3 linked regions of the Homo sapiens genome follow. The protein of the gene in region 3 interacts with the protein of the main gene of each other region in a pairwise test. Each region holds a gene or a part of one and is shown on either strand. Other genes may lie near its edges.

Region 1 (4,693 bases), on a different chromosome or scaffold from region 3:
TTCCTTTAATAAATCATGTGACTTGGCCAATTACAGAAATTCCTAAGTGTAGTATTTTGAAATGTGGCCAGTGTCCCAGATTTGTAAGGTACAGTGTGCATACAGTGTGTCTTAGGATTTTTTTAAGTAAATTAAGGATGTTTACCAGAAATTATTGATTTACTGAACCAAGTATTTATTTTCAGAAGCCCACTTTTGGGGAAGGTTGCCTATATTTTTGATAGTAATTAGATGGAAGATTAAATCCTGTTTAACCTGGATAGAAACAGTTTTAACTATTGCTGAAGTTAAAATCACTTTGGGGTGGGGTGGGGTGGCTCATGCCTGTAATCCCAGTGCTGTGGGAGGCTGAGGCCAGAGGATTGCTCGAGGCCAGGAATTTGAGACCAGCTTGGGCAACATAGCAAGACCCTGTCTCTACAGATAATTGAAAAGTGAGCCAGATGTGGTGGCGCATTCCTATAGTCTCCGTCTCTCAGGAGGCTGAGGCAGGAGATTGCTTGAGCCCAGGAGTTGGAGGCTGCAGTGAGTTATGATCATACCACTGCACTCTAACCTGGGTGACAGAGTGAGACCCTGTCTCTAAAAAACAAAAAATTAGAAAACAACAAAAACCACTTCGGTTACTCACTGTCCTCATGCTTTGATGTCAGTTGTTCTCCTAAATTTTAAAATTTTGTTATGAAGATTGGATGTACACTGATTTGGCCCTTTAAATGACATTATACCAAGAAGTTGGTATAAGGGAGTAGGAGATGAGAAAACTTTTTGAAAAATCATTTGGTGCATGCTAAGGTAGCTTGTAGGACATGTGGTTTTAAAAAATTCATGGATTTTGAAGAAGGATAGGGTGGAAGTAAAATTTAGCTGATAGCATAGGGATCATTTGTGATTTATATAGAAAATAATTATATTTTTGAGTGAGAAGCATCAGACTTAAATTTTTTTCTTCTATTTTGGTTATTACCAAAAGGAACAGAGAAACTCTCAGAATTCTTTGAATCATAGAATGTTAGTGCTGGAAAGGACTAGGAAGTGACTTGTACAACCCCTTCATTTTACAAAGGATCAGAGAGAATTGGTTAGTAGAGTCCCAAATCTGCTTTTAGAAGTAATATGGTGATCATCAGTTTAGATTCACTGTAGGAAGGGCAGCCCTGTTAAAGTTTGTCAGGAGAAAAAGGGAAGGTATCACTTTTTGTATGTTCACCCAGTTGCTTCTGTAGTTTTCATACCCCTGTTTTCTCAATTTTCTTAGAACTGTCTTTAATGGCCCAGCTCTACCAGGGCTTGTTGTCTAAGGACATTAACTTGTGCTCCCCTCAGGGATGGGTTTACTACTAGCTGTCAGAAAGCTATTGGGTATCCTAATGTGTTAATAGCTGAAACTCAGCTGTAATTTCTCCTAAATACTTCAGCATTTTGCATTCTGTACATTGTGGTGCTTTTTCCACCTTGTATTGTTGTAACTGTAAGCTCCTAGGGGGCAGCAATTTGGTCTTAGGCGTGTACCCTGTTTAGTGCCTGGCAATGCCATGTTTATATCAAGGTCTTAATATTACTTTTGAGTTATTTCTCCCACTCTTCATGGAAGTGATGCTCCAGCCTTGCTAAAACACTGAGGGTCCTCCCGATAAGCCAGGCATTGTGATTCCTTGGCTTCAAGTGCCTTCTGTCTTCCCCGAAGGTCCACTGAGATCTACAATCCCCCCTTTCCTCTGATCTCTTGCCATGTAAGTAATTTTTTAAAAGATCAGTACAAGAGCTATATTTTTTCCTAAGAAAAAATTTCAACAGGAATGGGGAGTAGCCCCGTTTTGGGGCTGATCTGTCCAGAATTTGGAGTGAGGAACAAATCCATTCTCATCTACTTTCCACATTTTCCCTCTTGTTTGAGGTCCTGTTCCAACCTTCATTTCTGAAACTGTTCTAGAGCACTTTGTCTTTCTCGTAGTTCATAACTTACCCCTTCAGTCTAGAATTAGAATTACATTATCTGTTTTACTACTTTACTAGACTGTAAGCTCCTAGAAGATAAGGACTAGGGAGTTCATCTCTGTATTCCACCAGAAGGTACAGTGACTCATAACTAGAGTCTTTAGATGAAACTTACTGAGTTGAATAACTTAATATATTTCTGTTTTCATTCCCAAGGGAGGCCATGTCTGGAGATAGACCTTGAATTTAATAAATTTTAGGCACTATACCATTTCAGTGGAGAAAATTGTTGGGAAATTTGGGGGGATGGATATATAAGGGGGAGGAAGTCACTGGCCAGTTTGAGGTGCTTCCATTGGTCTGGGTAACTAGCCATTTCTTCCTGATTGTGCCTAGTATATCCCAGACAGTTTGTTTCTATGCAGAAGAATTTTATATGAAATTTTCATTTCTTTGCAAAAACTTGTTCCTTCTTTCAGTTCATGACATCATCCATGCTAAAGTCTGAGTCATCTGCTTCCATTTTTGTTATTCCCCACATCCAGTCTTCAGCTAAGTCCTGTCAGTTCTACCTCAAGTCTTTCCCGTCTTTCTTCCTCACCTATGTAATTTCAGTAGTCTCTCAGCTTCACTTAACCTCTTACTCCAGCCTACTTTATACACAATGTTAGATTCATCTTACTGAAACATAGTTCTGACCATGTATTCCATGTATGTGTTCTCTCTCCCCTATTAGACTGTAAGCTCCTTATGGGCAGGATCTGTGTCTGAGTCATCTTTGTATCTTGCCTAGCACCTATCAATAAATACTTCTTGAATGAACAAATGAATTCTCATTTCTCGACATAAAGCCTTGTCTAAAGTGAGATGTTTTCCAGGTCATACATAGGTTTCTCCCTGGGGTAATTGGAAGTTCTTGCATATAAAGTTGGTTAAATAGTAATAATTATGAGTTAACCACAGAAAATTTCAGAAAACTTTAATTTTTTTCCATTGGAATCAGCATGGATATGTGTATATGGATGGTTCAATAAATATACTTTTATATACATGTTTCACAGAAATTTTACATTCCATCTTCAAACTGCAGAAATAGATTTTTTTTTTTTACAAGCCAAAAAATAACTGCCATAACTTTTGTGACTTCATGCAAAAAAAGGGGGGAAGAGTAAGGGGCAAAAGGGAATTAGTTGTTCAAGGTTGAGTGTCCAGTAAGAAGTAAAAATGTTACATTAAGGAAGCGATTGCTTAACACGCTGCTTAAGGTGGTAGCCAGACAAATCCTTAACTGCAGCATTAAGGCCATACCAAGTTTATACATATATACAAAGAAATTTCCATATAAAAGACATACTATCACATTTTCTTCTTCATAAGGATGAGGAACTTTGTAATTCTGACCTGATTTTCCAGGCCAATTAATTAAAATGTCCCCAGGCTGCTTTTTAGAAGTATCTTCTACTTTGGCTAGCTGTCAGAGTTGCCGCTATGTGAGCTTGTGACTTCTGGTCTGGCGTGAAAGTATGAATCATCTTGAACCTCTTCCATCATAGCACTATGTTGCTGAGCTAATTCATGCTGCCCAGCTAAGCACATTTTCTACATCCCCAAAGTATTTGGAATCACAGCATTGTAACTTGTGATTGTCTTACCTGTAACAGACTCCACAGTCATGCTGGCATTGTGACCTGAAGAATTACACAGTGCCCTTCTTAGATTCTTTGGGGTTAAGGTAACTTCTTGAATAATGTACTAATGAACGATAGTGTTTCAGGAAACATGCCCTAGCTATTGGAAGTTCGTATCTAACTTTTACCCCTTGTGTGTCATGATACATTTAAGTTGGTAGCTACATTTTTGGAATAAAGGAAATGTAAAATTATTTGCAGAATAATAACCTGGGATTTGCTCTTCTGCCTAAACATCGAACTAGGGAACTTTAAAGACAAAGGGTGCATCTTTTGTGCAAGTATCTAAGCGGGCAAAATGGGGAAAACATGAAGGGCAAGTCCTTTGGGGATGACTTCTAATTAATGCAGAAGTCATTTGCTTTGGCCAGGTTGGGTGGGACTCTGAGATTGCACACTCTTGCCCTGTTGGCAGAAACTAGCCCATCTTAAGTTAGTCAATGAATCCTGAGTCAAAATGAAAGGTTGCTAAATCTAAGATCGAGTGTATAAATAAAATAACCCCTTCCTCCAGTGACTGTGCATTTATTTTGTAATAAACTCATTTTGGAATGTTTTAGCAATGAATTGGTATCTCTCTGTTGTCCTGTTCATCGCCAGTTTTCAAGTATGGCTCCAGTGTGTTCACAGCTATGGCTGCAAGGTAATTTGGTCTCTTTCTATAGCTTCCCTAGGCCAGTCAAGTTTGAGAATAAGGTCTCCGTAAGTGGCCTGTCCTGGGAGAGAGGACCAAGTGATTTGTGATTTGGAAGCACTGTGGTATGTTTGAACACTTGCCAAGTTAACAGTCACTGAGTATTCTAATCATGCACCAGCCACTCTTCACCCTAAATGTACTACAAGTTATTCATTGCAGTAACTTGCATCAATTCTAGATAAGGTGATTTTTATTCAACAGGTCTACTGTGATGCTGATCTAGACAATGAGAGTGGAATAGCCTTTGGCAGTCTTGGAATATCAAGAGGGCTTAAAAGTATTAGGTTTTTGTTTTGGTCATTTTGTGTTTCACTTTGTCCATTTCAAGTCCAAAGCAGTTGAAGACATGTTTTATCCAGTTTGTCAGATG
Region 2 (8,361 bases), on a different chromosome or scaffold from region 3:
AAGCAAGTCCTTTATCCTCACAAGATCTCAGTTTTGCCATCCTAAAATCAGGAATTTTTTTTAAACATCCATGACCTGCTGAATAAAATCAGGAAATTGAATTAGATGCTCTCCAAGGGACCTCCATCCCTAGAATACCATATCTCTGCCTGGGCCCCCTGGGAGAGGAATGATCTCATAGCTGATGTCTGTGCGTGGTTATGAGGCTGTTCTGCTTGGTGCCTTCTTTCATCATCGGCTGTTTTCAAGGGACAAATATTCCCACAGTAGCCATGGATGATTCCACACTGCTGTGGTCACTCTCCATGAGTGACTAGGTAGAAGGCTTCTAGCCCAGGTGGGAGATACTAAGGTAGGAATCATGATAATGATAGTAAGAACAACAACAATAACAGCAGCTAACACTTACTGAGGACTTACTTTAAGCTATGTACTATGCATAAAGTACATTATGTTATTTCATCTAAATGCCAACCTTATGAGGTAGACACTGTTAATAGAGCTGTTTTATAGTCCATTAAAGTTAGGCCTAGAGAGATGATTTTCCTGAAGTCATACTTCCAGGATGTGGCAGAAACAATGCAAACACAGGACTCTCTGAATCCAGAGGGCAGTGATCTTGGGGAGCAGGGAGAGGGGACAGGAAAAGGGATATTACTTAGAGATTCAAGAGGTAGAGTCAGAATCAGCATGAATTAGTTATTAATTAGATTGGGGGTGTCAAGGATGAGCTTCTGGTCTCTGGTTTGGTGCTGGAGGGGGTGGATGTCATGCTCTCATTCATGGATAGTAGCAATGCAGTGGACTTCATGGAGGGCCATGTTGGATGAGTATGGGGTTTAAGAAGCAGTGGTGAGATAGGGAAGAGTGGGAGCTCTCAGCAGGCAGGACAGTCTGAGCCAGGGCCTAGGGTGAGTCTCACATGGAAGACCCTGAGCGCGGCCAGAAGGAACAGAGGGTTACCGCTAGGGAAGGTGGGGCTGCTTGGGGAGTATAGAGCTATGGCATGGGGTGGGGGATCCCTGGTGCCCAGGAGAGTTGGGACTTGCCAGTAATGGAGCCCTCAGAATGCACGATGTGCAGATGTACCACTTCTGCCTGAACAAAGCAACATATGCTGTATAAGCTATGCTGCTATCCTGGGCAGGGACACCCCTGAGGAAGGACCATGGTGCGCGCAGTCAGCAGACTGTAGAGACAGGAGGGTTTCAAGCAAGATTTCGAGCCACAGAGGGAAATAGTGGGATTTTGGCACAGACTCTGTGCTTTAGGAAGGAGAAGTACTCTGGGGTCCCAGGAAAGAGGGAAAGCAGCGTCTCTGAGAAGTTGTGCATAGCCCCAGATGGGGTAATAATCCCTTAGTCACTTGTCTGGAGCCTCCTTGACACCAGCAACTGTGTCTCATCCATTGTACCCCCAGCGCCTAGCCCAATCCTGTTCTCTTGAATTCACACCTCACCAACCCCATGAACATTCAGAGCTGGGGCAATGAATGATGCCCAACACCACAGACCATGCATGTGGTAAGGTTAGCCAGGGTCACAGAAGGACCTAGGGCTTCACCAGATGACCTCTGCATGGGTGCAGACTTTCCAGGTCATTCCATGTTGCCCCATAACACACTAACTCTGCCATGACCAGGTGGAATCTATAACGCCCCAGGAGCAGAGGCAGCAACCAGGAGACCTGGTGGAGTAGAAATGAGGAACTGCTCCTAAGCTGGGGAGACCTGCTGCTGCTGTTGCTGGCTGATAAGAGGCCCATAGAGAAGAAGCATGACCCTCCCATCCTCTCAGGTTCTATTTCCAGAGGTACTTGTGCTCAGCTTCATTCTCCTACTCTTCCTCCCCCATGATGCCAAGTAAGAGCTCAACCCAGCTGTTAATGGTAAGACATTATTTCTATGCAATGTGGGTAATTCTGATTAGCTGGGCAATCTGACATACAGGAGTGTGAAGGCAGGATTCAGGGCCTCTCAGGGCAGAAGGCTCTGATTACTTTGTTGAGAATCATCCACTACAACAAGGGATTCAGGATGAGAGAGGAGGCAAAGTGGTGTTTCCATAGCTGGAAGGGAACTTTGACCTTGGGAACCATCGGAGGGAAACATGGGCTAAAGTGCAGGCAATGTGCATGATACCCAGGAGGAGCTAGCAATCCCTTGGGTCTGGTATGTATGGAGGGGGAGACTTGCTGGTCCAGCTCAGCACTGGTTTTGCTGGGATGCAGATTCAGTGTGAGAAGAAGCTGTGCCCTAGTTCACTTGAAGCCACACTTCTCCAGCCCTGTGTACAGGCTGCATTAGTGAGGATGAGCCAGGACTGCCCCAGCCAGAGCCTAATGGTAGACAGGTTTCTTAGTAGTAACCTCCCCATAAAGAAAACTCAATTCTGGAGTCTTCATAAATCATATGAAGGCAAAACACTGGCTGTGGAGGCAAAACACTGGCCCTGGTGCCTGGAAACCACTGGCTTTGCGATGCTGCCTCTGGAAACCTACCTCCACTCATCCTTCTCTCCATCTAGGGGTGGACCTGATCCTGTTTGTGGTCCCAGGTGGCATGGACCAAGACATGGTGGAGCTGGTGCCTTGTGTGCTTTAATCCTGCATGGTCATGGTATCTCAGCCTCAGCAGGTGTTACTGAAGTGATATTTACCACTATCTTCCATGTGAAGAGTTTTGGAGCATTGGAGAGTGGGAGAACTCCAAGAGTGATGTTCCCAAGTCTTAGAGTCTCAGGAGTAAGGTTTCCTTATGAGGATCCAGATCTCTGAAACCAATAACATACATGGCATTGGGTTAGGATAGCAGCATCTTTGTCACCTAATGACTGCTGGAAGTCGACCTCTCTGTGTGGTGCTGATACAGTACCTAGAAAAACAGCATCCCGTGGACACTTCAGAGTGAAGAGGAGAAGAGAGAAGGTCCCCAGGGGCTCACCAGGGCTGAGTCCAGGTAGTCACACTTCCACATCCCACCTCCCCAACCCGTCTACCATCAGAGAAGGCTGGTTGGTTCTTGTGTTTTTGTCTTGCTGTCAGAAAGAGCCAGGGTGAGCCCATGGAGGGAAATGTGAGGGATTTCGAAGGCAGGGTGTAGCCACGATTAACTGGGGGAGTGATAGTTGGTACGGAGCACCAGATGAAATGACTAAGGGCCCCTCTGGGTTAAGAGCAGGACATGGTTCCATCACTGTGATCCAGAACCTCCTATTCTTGGATCAAAATGTTTCCAGCATCCTGGGTTCTTGTAATCTCCCAGGATAGGAATCAAGAGAGATCACCAGACACAGCAGCATAGAGAAAGTTTATTTTAGCTTGTGCACAAGGAAGCTGGCACTGAAGAAGAAAAGAATGGGCTGCTCCTTGAGGGCAGTAGTGTGTGGGTTAGTTTTATAAAGGCTTTCTATGGGGAAGGGTTACATTGGGGCAGGTGTAGGAGAGTTTTTCTAGTGCTTGCACAGTGGCTCAACATGCTTCTTCATATATTATATGTAGCATTAGCATTTTAAATCACCACCCCAGGGGTGATTTTTAGCATTAAAATGAAGAAGGGGTAACTATAGGTTGGAGTTTAAATGTAACTGCACATTTGGGTCTCCAAGGAAGTCCCTAGACCCCCGAAATAGGAGCTTATGGTTATAGCAGTTATAGCTTCTTGGGTCTTCTGTTACTGATTGGCTGGGAGTTAGATAAGCAAGAGCCTGACTGAGGGGCTTTTTTTTTTTTTTTTTTTTTTGAGACAGAATCTCGCTCTATCCCCCAGGCTGGAGTGCAGTGGCATGATCTTGGCTCGCTGCAACGTTTGCCTTCCAGGTTCAAGCGATTCTCATGCCTCAGCCTCCCGAGTAGCTGGGATTACAGGCACCCACCACGACGCCCAGCTAATTTTTGTATTTTTAGTAGAGACGGGGTTTCACCATGTTGGCCAGGCTGGTCTTGAACTCCTGACCTCAGGTGATCTGCCCACCTCAGCCTCCTAAAGTGCTGAGATTACAGGTGTGAGCCACTGTGTGGGGCCGACTGAGGGGCTTTTATCATTTTCCTCCAGACCATCTTAACATAGGAACCTAGCTAGCCTGCCTGTCTCAAATCCTTCCTAAATGGGCCAGATGTAGAACTGTGTTGGCACCTCTGCTTTCCTCATCATTACTCCTAGCCTTTTCCTGTGCTTGCAGGACAAAACTTGGAGGGCACTGGGGCAGGCAGTGAGCAGAGCCTGGCTGGTTGTCCCCAGGAAGGAAGGGGGAGGTCCAGGCCATAAGGGCAAGGTGTCATCTCTGACCAGAGACAGAGTTCTTCTCTGAGGACGCAGGGCAGAGTTCTTCTTCCCGAGGCCATGGGTAACTTGGCCTCCACAAATAAAGGCTGAGGAAGAGGGATGAAACTGGAGGCTTACAGCAGGAATGTCCAGGGAGGGCAGAGGGAAGGGCAGGCAGTCAGTTCAGGACATCACAGACATTCATGGCCAGAGTGTAGAGAGGCTGAAGAAGGTGGGTTTTCTGGAAGACTGTCCCAACCTCTCACGGGCCAGCTGGGCATCCAGGCATCTTCTACCTTACAAGGTAGACCAGCAGAATAGGCACCATTTAGAGATTTAGAAATGCAGTTTTCCAGACCTCACTCTAGACTTTCTGACTCTACGTTTAACCAGAACCCCAAGGCGACGTGTGTGCAGGAAAGTTTGAGAAACCTTATTGAGAGGAGGAGTTCTGGCAGGGCTGGTGGGAGGACACCCCACTAACAGGCAGCATGCAGGGGCTGCCGTGGAGGTGACGTCACACCACATGGTGAGTTGGGGAAAGAGAGAGGCAATGAGCTCCATCTGGCAGTGCTGAGTTTGAGGGGGCTGCTGGAGGGGGCTGCTCAAGACAGCAGCTGCACCTCTGAGCCTCTGCCTCTGCATGGGGCACAGGTTAGAGCCAGAGACATGGATTTGGAGCCCTCAGAAAAGACGGGGACATAGAAGCTGTGAGACTGGATGAGATCACCTAGAGCAAGTGGAGAGTGGGAAGAGGGCCTAGAATGGAGGTTAAGGGGATGCCTGCATATAAAGAGCAGCCAAGGGGAGGAACTTGGCAGAGATTTCAGCAGTCAGTGGCCTAGGGGAAATCCCAGCTGAGCCGGGGGACACAGAAGGGTCAATAGGATTGAATGGCATGGAGCAGTCAGGAGAGCACCAGACAGGGTCCATGAATTTCCAAATTAGGCCATGAGAAAATGTTATATTAAAAGGGCAATCAAAAGTGGAGATAGGCCAGGCGCATTGGCTCACACCTGTAATCCCAACATTTTGGGAGACCAAGGCGGGAGGATTGCTTAAGCAGGAGTTTGAGACCAGCCTGGGCAACATAGTGAGACCGTGTCTCTACAAAAATTACAAAAATTAGCCAGGCGTGGTGGTGCATGCCTGTGATCCCATCTGCTCAGGAGGCTGAGGTGGGAGGATTGTTTGAGCCCAGAAGGTCAAGGCTGCAGTGAGCTGAGATTTCACCACTGTGCTCCAACCTGGGCAACAGAGCAAGACCCTGTCTCAAAAAAAAAAAAAAAAACAAAACAGTGGAGATAGTGGAAAGAAAACTTAATGCCTTTTTAAAAATATAGTTTGGGAAGTGGCTATTAAAAGGACAGTCTATCAGCAGAAGTGACAGTCTATCACTGCAGAAAGTTAAACAGAGCTGATAGGGGAAGCCGACGAACTTGTTGACTTCTGTTTTCTGTGTACAACTGTGGAACAAATAGGGAAGACAAACAGCTGGCTGCTAACTTTGATCACATAAATGGAAGTTAAGGAAAACTGGATCATAAAAGTGATGGATAAGGAAAAAACAGTGCTAAACCATATCTTAAAATATTTTGCTTATTTTTCTCAAAACATTATATATATATGTCATGTTAAAATAGTTTAATAATATTAGTTTTTTTAAAAAAAGACATTAGATTTACCACAATTTTTTAATGGGGGTAGGCATTAGGAACTGGATTGTGATGATGGCTGCACAATTTGGGGAATTTACTAAAAATCATTGAATTGTGCACTTAAAACATGAATTTTCTTCCTTTCGTTCTTTCTTCCTTTCTATCTTCTGACAGGGTCTTGCTCTGTCACCCAGGCTGGAGTGCAGTGGCAAGATAATAGCTCACTGCAGCCTCAATCTTCCAAGCTAAAGTGATCCTCCCACCTTAGCATCCCGAGTAGCTGGGACTGCAGGCACACACCACCACGCTGGGCTAGTTTTGTTTTTTGATTTTTAAATAGAGGTGAGGTTTCTTTTTGTTGCCCAGGCTGGTCTCGAACTCCTAAGCTCAAGTGGTCCTCCCACCTTTGCCTCCCAAAGTGCTTGGATAACGGGTGTCAGCCACTGTACCTGACCTGTAATATTTTTCTGTGCTTGGAAAGTCTTTTGTTGGTCATCTATGATACTTCTCTACAAAAATACAGATGTATAACTTGAGATGAAAGATTTTCTCTTGTTCTCCTGGGACCATACATCTCTGAATATTAAACTCTTTTTTTCTTTTGGATGAAGTTACCAATACAACTTTTAATCACATGTAAGCAAAATAACATAAACATATTACAAATTTTGGTAAATAATAATAATTATTATTGTTATTTTTGAGATGGAGTCTCGCTCTGTCGCCCAGGCTGGAGTGCAGTGGCGTGATCTTGGCTCACTGCAACCTCCGCCTCCCAGGTTCACGCCATTCTCCTGCCTCAGCCTCCCAAGTAGCTGGGACTACAGGCGCCCGCCACCACGCCCGGCTAATTTTTTGTATTTTTAGTAGAGATGGGGTTTCACCGTGTTAGCCAGGACGGTTTCGATCTCCTGACCTCATGATCTGCCCGCCTCGGCCTCCCAAAGTGTTGGGATTACAGGCGTGAGCCACCACGCCTGGCCAATAATTGTTAAATGAAAAATAAAATGGAAATGCATCTCTTAATGAGGTAGATGGAGCTTTTTTAAAAAAAGTTTATTTGTGTATCCATTGATGAAAATTACATATTTTAGACTGCAACAGGAATTAGGGTCAATTGTCTTTCCGCTTTTCATTTTGTTGATGTAAGAACAGAGCAACCTTGCTTAGCTACGTAATCAAACATTGATGGAAATGAAAGTGTTTTATTATAGCAATGTCACTCACATTTTTGAACTCTTTCTGAAATGTGTTTCAAAAAGTACATAGTGATCTATCATGAAAAATTATTTTTAATCATATATTAGCTGACAATTTGATTAGATCCTCCTTCAACTTTATTGAAAGCAAAGAACTGGAAACCACTTAGCTTGAAAACAAATTTTTTCTTATGCATTCATTAATGTCATTCACCCTCCACCATTGATAGCAATACTTCAAATTGTCCTTCCATTTAGTCCCCTGGAGGTGTTTTTTTTTTTTTTTTTTTTTAATTACCAAGCAATGAAATCTTACAGTGCAATGAAATATTCAGGATAAGTGAGAGGTATAGTTTTACTTTTGTAATAAAGAGAAAAAGGACTATTGTGAAAAAAGAATCTACATGAAGCCTCAAATGCTAGTTCCTTCCCAGGCAGAGCAGCTCTGGGAAAGATTAAATATAAAGTTGAGCATCTGGGAGCTGATCCTCCTGAAGCTATCTATACCATGTACCCCTTGGAAAGTCTTCGCATACAGATTCCATAGCCTGAAGAGTGATGGTGGAAATGCCACCCTTTGATGGAGTCTGGAGAGGGAAAGGGGAGAAAGAGAGAATAGCAGCTAGCAGAGAAAGCTGGGTGGAAAGTTTATTTTTAGTCTGGGACAATGAACTAGTCATCTATTGTGGCATAACAAATTATTTCAAAACTTGACAGCTTAAAACAACAAATATTTATTCTCTTGAATCGTTTCTGAGGGTCAAGAACCTGAGAACAGTTCGTCTGGGTGATTGTGGCTCAGAGTCTCTCATGAGGCCTGGTGACCACTTTCCGTTGGTTCTCCTAATACGTCTTATGCCCGCAGCAATGCTGCCAACTTCTTCAGCTCACCTGCCAGCCAACCTTGGTTCACCTGTGTTTCCATATGTTTTTCTTGCTTTTACAGCCACTGGGGACCAGCTCTGGCCAGGACAATTCCGTTTGCCATGATGTGGGTTGAAATCACAACTTCTCCCGGGCGCAGTGGCTCACGCCTCTAATCCCAGCACTTTGGGAGGCCAAGGTGGGTGGATCACAAAGTCAGGAGTTTGAGACCAGCCTGGACAACATGGTGAAACCCCGTCTCTACTAAAAAATACAAAAATTAGCTGGATGTGGTTGCGGATGCCTGTAATCCCAGCTACTTGGGAGGCTGAGTCAGGAGAATCACTTGAAACCAGAAGGCGGTGGTTGAGTGAGCAGA
Region 3 (9,995 bases):
CAGTGGTGCGGTCTTGGCTCAGTGCAACCTCTGCCTCCTGGGTTCAAGTGATTCTCCTGCCTCACCTTCCTGAGCAGCTTGGATTACAGGTGCCCGCCACCATGCTCAGCTAATTTTTTGTATTTTTAGTAGAGACGGGGCTTCACTATGTTGGCCAGGCCGGTCTCGAACTCCTGACCTGATAATCCCCCCACCTTGGCCTCCCAAAGTACCAAAATTACAGGCATGAGCCACCCCTCCTGGCCATTTTTAGGGGATTTTTAAAGAATATTTTTGATCTGTCATTGGTTGAATCTGTTGATGCAGAACCCATGGATACAGAGGGCCAACTGTAGATAAATGGAACAAAATAAAGATGCCAGAATTAGATCCATACAAATACAGTCAACTGATCATTGACAAAGGAGCAAATAATTCAATGGAGAAACAATGGTCTTTTCAACAAACGGTGCTGGAATAACTGGACATTCATATGCAAAAAACAATCTAGACACAGACCTTATATCTTTCACAAAAATTTACTCAAAATGGATCATAGACCTAAATGCAAAACACAAAACTGTAAAACTTCTGGAAGATAACATAGGAGAAAATCTAGGTGAACTTGTGTTTGGTGATGACTTTTTGGGTACAATGCTAAAAGCACGATCCCTGAAAAAAACTGAACAGTCGAAATTTTTTCATTACAAATGTCTGCTCAATGAAAGACATTGTTAAATGAATGAAAAGACAAGCCACTGTCTGGGAGAAAATATCTGCAAAATACATAATCTGATAAAGGGCTGATATCTAAAATATATAAAGAACACTGAAAAATCATCAATAAAAAAAACCCAATGGGTAACAGATCTGAGCAGACACCTTATCAAAGAAGATACATACGTGACAAACAAGCATAAGATGCCCAATGCCATATGTCATTAGGAAATTGCAAACTAAAACAATAAGATTCTACTATGCACCTATTAAAATACCCAAAATTCAAAATACTGGCAACACCAAATGTTGGCAAGGATGTGGAGTAACAGGAAGTCTCACTCATTGCTGGTGAAAATGCAAACTGTTACAGCCACTTTGGAAGATCATCTGGTAATTTTTGATAAAGCAAAACATAGTCTTACCATATGATCCAGCAATCATGCTCCTTGGTATTTACCTAAATGAGTTGAAAACTTATGTCCATACAAAAATCTGTACAAGAAAGTTTACAGGAGCCTTATTCATAATTTTAAAAGACTGAAAGCAACCAAGATGTCTTTCAATAAATAAATGGATAAACAAACCATGGTATATACATACAGTGGAATACTGTGCACAATAAAAGAAAATAAACTATCAAGCCATGAAAAGACACAGAGGAATGTTAAATGTATATTGCTAAGTAAAAAAAAAAAAGCAGTATGAAAAGACTACATACTATATGATTCCAACTCTATGACATTACGGAAAAGGCAAAATTCTGCAGAAAGTAAAAACATCAGTGATTGCCAAGGGTTGGTTGCAGGTAGACCAGATGAATAGGTGGAACACAAGGAATTTTTTAATGCAGTGTAATTGTTCTGCTGACACTGTAATGGTGGATATGTTATGCTTTTTTCAAAACCCACAGAGCTATGCAACACAAAGAGTGAATCTTAATGTAAACTATAGACTTTAGTTAGTAATAATGCATCAGTTGTAATAAATGTACAATGCGAATGCAAGATGTTAATAACAGGAGGAACTGTAGGGGAGGAGGGAGATTAGGAAGTACATAGAAACTCTCTCCACTATCTGCTTAATTTTTCCATAAATGTAAAACTGTTCTAAAAAATAAAGCCAATTAATTATTCTTTTTCTAATATCTCATTTGAATGAGAGGTCATGGTTAAAGGAAATTGTCAGAGAAAGTGTCAAGAAAGAAGTGTGACTTTAGCTGGGTCCTGAAGGGTACATAAGATTTGAGAGTCGGAAAGGGCAGAAGGCATTTCAGCTGGGTTTGAGCCATGGAAAAGACTCAGAGGGCTCAAATTGCGAAGGAGCAGGAAATAGCACAGAATAAATCAATGCAAAGACAACAGGCAGCAATTTAATGGAAACCAAGGGCCAAGGCAGGGCTAGAAACACTGAAGCATCATTCCAATATCAGATAAATATAGGCATGAGAGCTGACTCAACCTCGGCCGGGTCCTCAACACATATTCGTTCATTCATGTAATATTTAGTAAACATTCACTATGTTCCAGACACTGTGGTAGGCACTGGGGACAAGCAGTGAATAAAACAAATGGAAATCTTTGTTCTCACTGAGCTTACACTCTAGTGAGGGGAGAGAGACAGAACCTGTCTGCTATTTTCAAGAAACAACAAAGAAAACATTATGGCTGGAATGAGAAACAATGGCCTTTTCAATAAACAGTGCTGGAATAACTGGACATTCATATGCAAAAAATAATCTAGATACAGACCTTATATCTTTTGAAAAAAATTTACTCAAAATGGATCATAGACCTAAATGCAAAACACAAAACTGTAAAACTTCTGAAAGATAACATAGGAGAAAATCTAGGTGAACTAGATAGATTTCATGCACTGGAATGAAGTGAAGGGGGAAAGTAGAAGGTGAGATAGCGGAGATAACAGAAGTCAGAGTATATAGGGCACTGAAGCCAGAATAAATAATGACTCTGGCTTTTACTCTGAGAGATGTAGGGAGTCACTGGGGGATTGTGAGTGGCAGAGTGACTTGATTGACACCTCAACAGGGTCATTCTGTCTTCTGTGCTGAGAACTGTCAGAGAGGGTACAACAGTGGACAGTGACTGCAGGGATACCAGCGAAGAAGTTGCTGCCATAATGCAGGTAAGAGAATGGAAGCTTGGACTATGGTTTTAGCTGAGCAAATGATCAGAAACAGAGTCTGGATTCTACAATGATTTGCTGATGGATCTGATGTGTGAAAGAGGGTCAAAATGTCTCAGTTTTAGGCTTGAGCAACGAACTGGAAGGCAGGAGCTGCCTGTAACGAGAGACAGGAGAGAAAGAGAGAGAGAGAGAGAGGACTTTGGAAGAGCAGGCTCATGATCAGGCCTGAGCTCAGTGTCTGAATTCAGGTAAGCTATCTTGAAAGGGGAAATATCAAAAGCTAGAGATCAGAGTAAGGCTGAGACTCAGAGTCAAGTGGGGAAGACTAAGTTGCAGTATGTACTGGCAGTGAAGATAAGTATTTATTCATTCATTGAACATACCTTGAAATCAACCACTTTTAATGTGCCAGGGACACAAAGATAGAAAAGACATTTGCCCTGTCTGGAAGGTACTAATAATCCAATAAGGAAAACAGAAATATAAATAAATTATTCTAGTACACTAACCATCATAGTAGAGGTATTCAACATTTGTTGAGTCTCTGCTATATGCCAAGCAGTGTAATGAGGAAGCAGAGGGTATGCACAAAGTTCTACAAGAGCACAAAATAAGTTCTGGCAAAGGTTTGTAAAGACATTCACAAGGGTTTTCACCACAGTATGACTTCAGGGAGTTGGCAGTAACCTAGATGCCCGATCAGTAGGGATATGTATGAATAAAATTTCTGGCATACTCGGTAGCAAACTAGGTGTACACACAGCAATGTGGGTATAGCTCAAAAACAGACTGTTGAGTAAAACAGTGGGAAATAGAGATTTACAGTCCAATACCATCTCTGTAAATGCAAGAGGCATAAACAAAACATTATCTGTGTTAAATTATCAAGGATCTCTATCGAACATATTGCAGCTTGTGTCTAGAAGAATGAGAGTGGGGATCGAGAAAGATGAGGAAAAAATAATATAAACACTATAAAATAATGTAAACAAGGACCCTGTAGGGACTGATATGACAATGTGCTGAAAATTGAGGAGCAAAGTTAACTCTCTGTACCTGAGATAAAATAACTAGCTAATAGGAATCCAGCTGAAAACCTTAAGGTGCAGGGCCTCTATGGGGCCCAGGAAGGATGTGTAGAGACATGAACGGATGAAAGTGCATCACAGGTTCAGGGAACAACACAGGTTGAGTGTGGCTTGTAGTAAAAATGGTTGTGAAGAGTTGACATATTTTTAAGCCCTGGGTAAATTGAACAACAGCTTACACTTGGAGGGGTATAATCATTCTAATCAATGTGTCCCCTTTTACTATAATACATTGGAGTTGCAGCTAATGCTCTGCTCCCATTCAGCCTATGATGAGATTCTCTTTCAGCCCTATTGGGTTCTTGGCCTCATGTGACTACTCCAAAGACCCTAGTCCAAAAGGTCTTTCCTGTTTGCTATGGCCTTGAGGAATGTGGCCCTAGATCCACCGCTTTAAAGCTGGAGTTCCACCAGCAGCAACATCCTCTCATTCTGGGGCACCTGCCTGGGGCAGGTCATCCTGCCTCTGCCAACTCAGTGCTATTAGTTAACTCTCACCTGCCATATTCCAGCTGGAATCATCTCCCCTTCTCCACCCCAGACTAGGTCATGTTCCGCCATCATGGAAGCGCCTATTCTTCATACCCCTTATCACAGCTGCAACTACTCATTTACTTGTCTGACAATTTGATTTATGTCCACCTACTTTGCTAGGTACTAAGTTCAATGCTGGCAGTCGTTTCTTCTTTTTTTTTCTTTTCTGTTTTGCTCACCGATTTCTCGTTAGCACTTAGCACAGTGTCTGGCACACGATAGATGCTCCGTCAACTTCTCAGTTGGATACCAGCATCCCGAAGGGAACATGGATTAAGGCAGCTATAAGCACGGTGTAAAAACAGGAATAAGAAAAAGTTGAGGTTTGTTTCACAGTGGAATGTAAAGGGTTGCAAGGAGGTGCATCGGCCCCTGTGGACAGGACGCATGACTGCTACACACGTGTTCACCCCACCCTCTGGCACAGGGTGCACATACAGTAGGGGCAGAAATGAACCTCAAGTGCTTAACACAATTTTTAAAAAATATATAGTCAAGTGAAAGTATGAAAATGAGTTGAGGAAAGGCGAGTACGTGGGTCAAAGCTGGGTCTGAGGAAAGGCTCACATTTTGAGATCCCGACTCAATCCATGTCCCTTAAAGGGCACAGGGTGTCTCCACAGGGCCGCCCAAAATCTGGTGAGAGAGGGCGTAGACGCCTCACCTTCTGCCTCTACGGGTCACAAAAGCCTGGGTCACCCTGGTTGCCACTGTTCCTAGTTCAAAGTCTTCTTCTGTCTAATCCTTCACCCCTATTCTCGCCTTCCACTCCACCTCCCGCTCAGTCAGACTGCGCTACTTTGAACCGGACCAAACCAAACCAAACCAAACCAAACCAAACCAGACCAGACACCCCCTCCCGCGGAATCCCAGAGAGGCCGAACTGGGATAACCGGATGCATTTGATTTCCCACGCCACTGAGTGCACCTCTGCAGAAATGGGCGTTCTGGCCCTCGCGAGGCAGTGCGACCTGTCACCGCCCTTCAGCCTTCCCGCCCTCCACCAAGCCCGCGCACGCCCGGCCCGCGCGTCTGTCTTTCGACCCGGCACCCCGGCCGGTTCCCAGCAGCGCGCATGCGCGCGCTCCCAGGCCACTTGAAGAGAGAGGGCGGGGCCGAGGGGCTGAGCCCGCGGGGGGAGGGAACAGCGTTGATCACGTGACGTGGTTTCAGTGTTTACACCCGCAGCGGGCCGGGGGTTCGGCCTCAGTCAGGCGCTCAGCTCCGTTTCGGTTTCACTTCCGGTGGAGGGCCGCCTCTGAGCGGGCGGCGGGCCGACGGCGAGCGCGGGCGGCGGCGGTGACGGAGGCGCCGCTGCCAGGGGGCGTGCGGCAGCGCGGCGGCGGCGGCGGCGGCGGCGGCGGCGGAGGCGGCGGCGGCGGCGGCGGCGGCGGCGGCTGGGCCTCGAGCGCCCGCAGCCCACCTCTCGGGGGCGGGCTCCCGGCGCTAGCAGGGCTGAAGAGAAGATGGAGGAGCTGGTGGTGGAAGTGCGGGGCTCCAATGGCGCTTTCTACAAGGTACTTGGCTCTAGGGCAGGCCCCATCTTCGCCCTTCCTTCCCTCCCTTTTCTTCTTGGTGTCGGCGGGAGGCAGGCCCGGGGCCCTCTTCCCGAGCACCGCGCCTGGGTGCCAGGGCACGCTCGGCGGGATGTTGTTGGGAGGGAAGGACTGGACTTGGGGCCTGTTGGAAGCCCCTCTCCGACTCCGAGAGGCCCTAGCGCCTATCGAAATGAGAGACCAGCGAGGAGAGGGTTCTCTTTCGGCGCCGAGCCCCGCCGGGGTGAGCTGGGGATGGGCGAGGGCCGGCGGCAGGTACTAGAGCCGGGCGGGAAGGGCCGAAATCGGCGCTAAGTGACGGCGATGGCTTATTCCCCCTTTCCTAAACATCATCTCCCAGCGGGATCCGGGCCTGTCGTGTGGGTAGTTGTGGAGGAGCGGGGGGCGCTTCAGCCGGGCCGCCTCCTGCAGCGCCAAGAGGGCTTCAGGTCTCCTTTGGCTTCTCTTTTCCGGTCTAGCATTGGGACTTCGGAGAGCTCCACTGTTCTGGGCGAGGGCTGTGAAGAAAGAGTAGTAAGAAGCGGTAGTCGGCACCAAATCACAATGGCAACTGATTTTTAGTGGCTTCTCTTTGTGGATTTCGGAGGAGATTTTAGATCCAAAAGTTTCAGGAAGACCCTAACATGGCCCAGCAGTGCATTGAAGAAGTTGATCATCGTGAATATTCGCGTCCCCCTTTTTGTTAAACGGGGTAAATTCAGGAATGCACATGCTTCAGCGTCTAAAACCATTAGCAGCGCTGCTACTTAAAAATTGTGTGTGTGTGTTTAAGTTTCCAAAGACCTAAATATATGCCATGAAACTTCAGGTAATTAACTGAGAGTATATTATTACTAGGGCATTTTTTTTTTAACTGAGCGAAAATATTTTTGTGCCCCTAAGAACTTGACCACATTTCCTTTGAATTTGTGGTGTTGCAGTGGACTGAATTGTTGAGGCTTTATATAGGCATTCATGGGTTTACTGTGCTTTTTAAAGTTACACCATTGCAGATCAACTAACACCTTTCAGTTTTAAAAGGAAGATTTACAAATTTGATGTAGCAGTAGTGCGTTTGTTGGTATGTAGGTGCTGTATAAATTCATCTATAAATTCTCATTTCCTTTTGAATGTCTATAACCTCTTTCAATAATATCCCACCTTACTACAGTATTTTGGCAATAGAAGGTGCGTGTGGAAGGAAGGCTGGAAAATAGCTATTAGCAGTGTCCAACACAATTCTTAAATGTATTGTAGAATGGCTTGAATGTTTCAGACAGGACACGTTTGGCTATAGGAAAATAAACAATTGACTTTATTCTGTGTTTACCAATTTTATGAAGACATTTGGAGATCAGTATATTTCATAAATGAGTAAAGTATGTAAACTGTTCCATACTTTGAGCACAAAGATAAAGCCTTTTGCTGTAAAAGGAGGCAAAAGGTAACCCCGCGTTTATGTTCTTAACAGTCTCATGAATATGAAATTGTTTCAGTTGACTCTGCAGTCAAAATTTTAATTTCATTGATTTTATTGATCCATAATTTCTTCTGGTGAGTTTGCGTAGAATCGTTCACGGTCCTAGATTAGTGGTTTTGGTCACTAGATTTCTGGCACTAATAACTATAATACATATACATATATATGTGTGAGTAACGGCTAATGGTTAGGCAAGATTTTGATTGACCTGTGATATAAACTTAGATTGGATGCCACTAAAGTTTGCTTATCACAGAGGGCAAGTAGCACATTATGGCCTTGAAGTACTTATTGTTCTCTTCCAGCAACTTATGATTTGCTCCAGTGATTTTGCTTGCACACTGACTGGAATATAAGAAATGCCTTCTATTTTTGCTATTAATTCCCTCCTTTTTTGTTTTGTTTTGTAACGAAGTTGTTTAACTTGAAGGTGAATGAAGAATAGGTTGGTTGCCCCTTAGTTCCCTGAGGAGAAATGTTAATACTTGAACAAGTGTGTGTCAGACAAATTGCTGTTATGTTTATTTAATTAAGTTTGATTTCTAAGAAAATCTCAAATGGTCTGCACTGATGGAAGAACAGTTTCTGTAACAAAAAAGCTTGAAATTTTTATATGACTTATAATACTGCTGTGAGTTTTAAAAGTAAAGCAAAAGTAAACTGAGTTGCTTGTCCAGTGGGATGGACAGGAAAGATGTGAAATAAAAACCAATGAAAAATGAACTGCTGTGGAGAAGTGTTACATTTATGGAAAAAGAAATAGGAACCTTGTTCATCAAATTGATAGAAAAGCTTTTAAAACTAAACAAATCAAACAACTTGAGTATAATGGAATTCAGACTTTGATTTGCCTAACATAACCACCATATTTGCAAGGACAGCTCTCTATCTTCTGGTGTTTATTCTTAAAAACTTAAAAGTTAGATTTAGCGATCACCAGAGCCACTACTTTTATGCTTAGGTATTTGTTTGACTTAGAAAAAATTGGTCACGTGTACCACTTTATAGTGCCCTGCAGGTGTTAAGATATGAAGGCACTTTGACTTACACCTCATAAAATCTTTACAAAGTATTTTCTAAATGAATAATGATGAAATAAAGTCTTTATTCTAGGTGCATCTGCCCCACATAATTTGTTTTCTTTGGACTAGAAGTTTTGATGTGTTGAGAATGGTAATGAATTAACTCCATTTTAAATGTAGAATGCGTATCACTCCAATATGAATGCCCTAATGAATCCTAAGATTTGTAGGTTTTGTGTACTAGTATGAAAATTACTAAAGATGGAAAAATCACATGTTGGAGACATAAGATACAAACCTTTTTGTTTTCTGAAAATACAACCTCTGATTTCTGATTCCTTGTTGTAATATGGTGTAATTATACTAGATTGTAATTTTGTTGTTAGATTATACTTTTTTAAGTTCAGTGTTTGAGGACAGACTTTCATTTGGTTAGTAGTATTATGGCAGCTAGCAGCTAAATATGATAAAGTGTACAATCAAAAGGATATTTTTAATGAAGATATTAGTGGTCTAACATGTCATTTCAGATACATAGCTGAAATGTAGTAAAATCAGTTTTACTACAAATAAACTTGCATAAGGTTTATAAATTTATAAGTTTATAAATCAACTTGGGTAAAGTGTAAATAAACTTGCACTCGTGGTTTCTCTGAAGTCTCCTGAGCTAACTTTGCATAAAGGTGTTATTCTGTACTTCGAGGAAGTGAATTATTGGGGTCAACCACATTTTTTTTCCTTCCTACAGTCTGATTGCCCTTTTTAGTTTTTAGGATCTTTGTGGCTGCATCATTTTTCCCCTTTTGAACTGTGCATTTTCTAACCCCATACTTAAATATTCTCATAACCTCCAAATTATTAATTAGATGCAACATTCAGTGGTATATTACTGGAGTTTCTGATTTCTGCCCACTATAGGAATGTGCTTCCTGAGAAGATTGGGATCGTGATTATAATAATAGTTAACAGGGGATGAGTACTTTCTAGGTGCCAGGCACTGTTCTCTCTGATACTTTATTTGATGTATTGTTGTTATTCCCATTCTTTAAATGATGCACAGAGAGGTTAGGTAAGTGACTTACTACCAAGTGTCAGGGCCATTAAGGGTCAGGATTCTGAATTCCTGAAATGATGAAATTTAGCTTGAAGAAATTGGTTTGATTTCCTGCTTAGTTTTCAATTTCATGGTGGTCTTTGATTGTATTTTGTGCTATAACACTGCCTTAGCATCCTATAACTATAGTTACAGTGTTATATTACCATTTTTTATTGTTAATACAAAGCCATCATGAAATAATTCAGTTTATGTGCCAGCTTTTTTTGTTACTAATTCTTGAACCTTGGCGCTGTACTTCTTCATGTGGATGCCTGTTAAGGAAAGATAAAGTTAGAAATCTTTGACCCTGCTAGGAAATTTGTCTTTGTTATATTGGGAGCTCATAAAACTGAAGTATTCAAAAGTTAGAATACATACACACAAGAAAAATTAGTA

The links. Proteins that work in one complex are often made in the same cells at the same time.
Region 1: the proteins of FMR1 (region 3) and G3BP1 interact in binary tests that used the Homo sapiens proteins (3 or more experiments, as listed by UniProt).
Region 2: the proteins of FMR1 (region 3) and FSD2 interact in binary tests that used the Homo sapiens proteins (3 or more experiments, as listed by UniProt).

Annotation. Positions count from the first base shown.
Region 1 is NC_000005.10:151,808,593-151,813,285, forward strand, and holds the end of G3BP1 (ras GTPase-activating protein-binding protein 1), read left to right. Parts: 3' UTR 1-4,193; downstream 4,194-4,693. UniProt on the Homo sapiens protein: Protein involved in various processes, such as stress granule formation and innate immunity. Plays an essential role in stress granule formation.
Region 2 is NC_000015.10:82,796,070-82,804,430, reverse strand, and holds part of FSD2 (fibronectin type III and SPRY domain-containing protein 2), read left to right. Parts: intron 1-1,792; exon of another isoform or gene 1,793-1,887; intron 1,888-8,064; exon of another isoform or gene 8,065-8,181; intron 8,182-8,361.
Region 3 is NC_000023.11:147,906,248-147,916,242, forward strand, and holds the start of FMR1 (fragile X messenger ribonucleoprotein 1), read left to right. Parts: upstream 1-5,671; 5' UTR 5,672-5,932; coding exon 5,933-5,983; intron 5,984-9,995.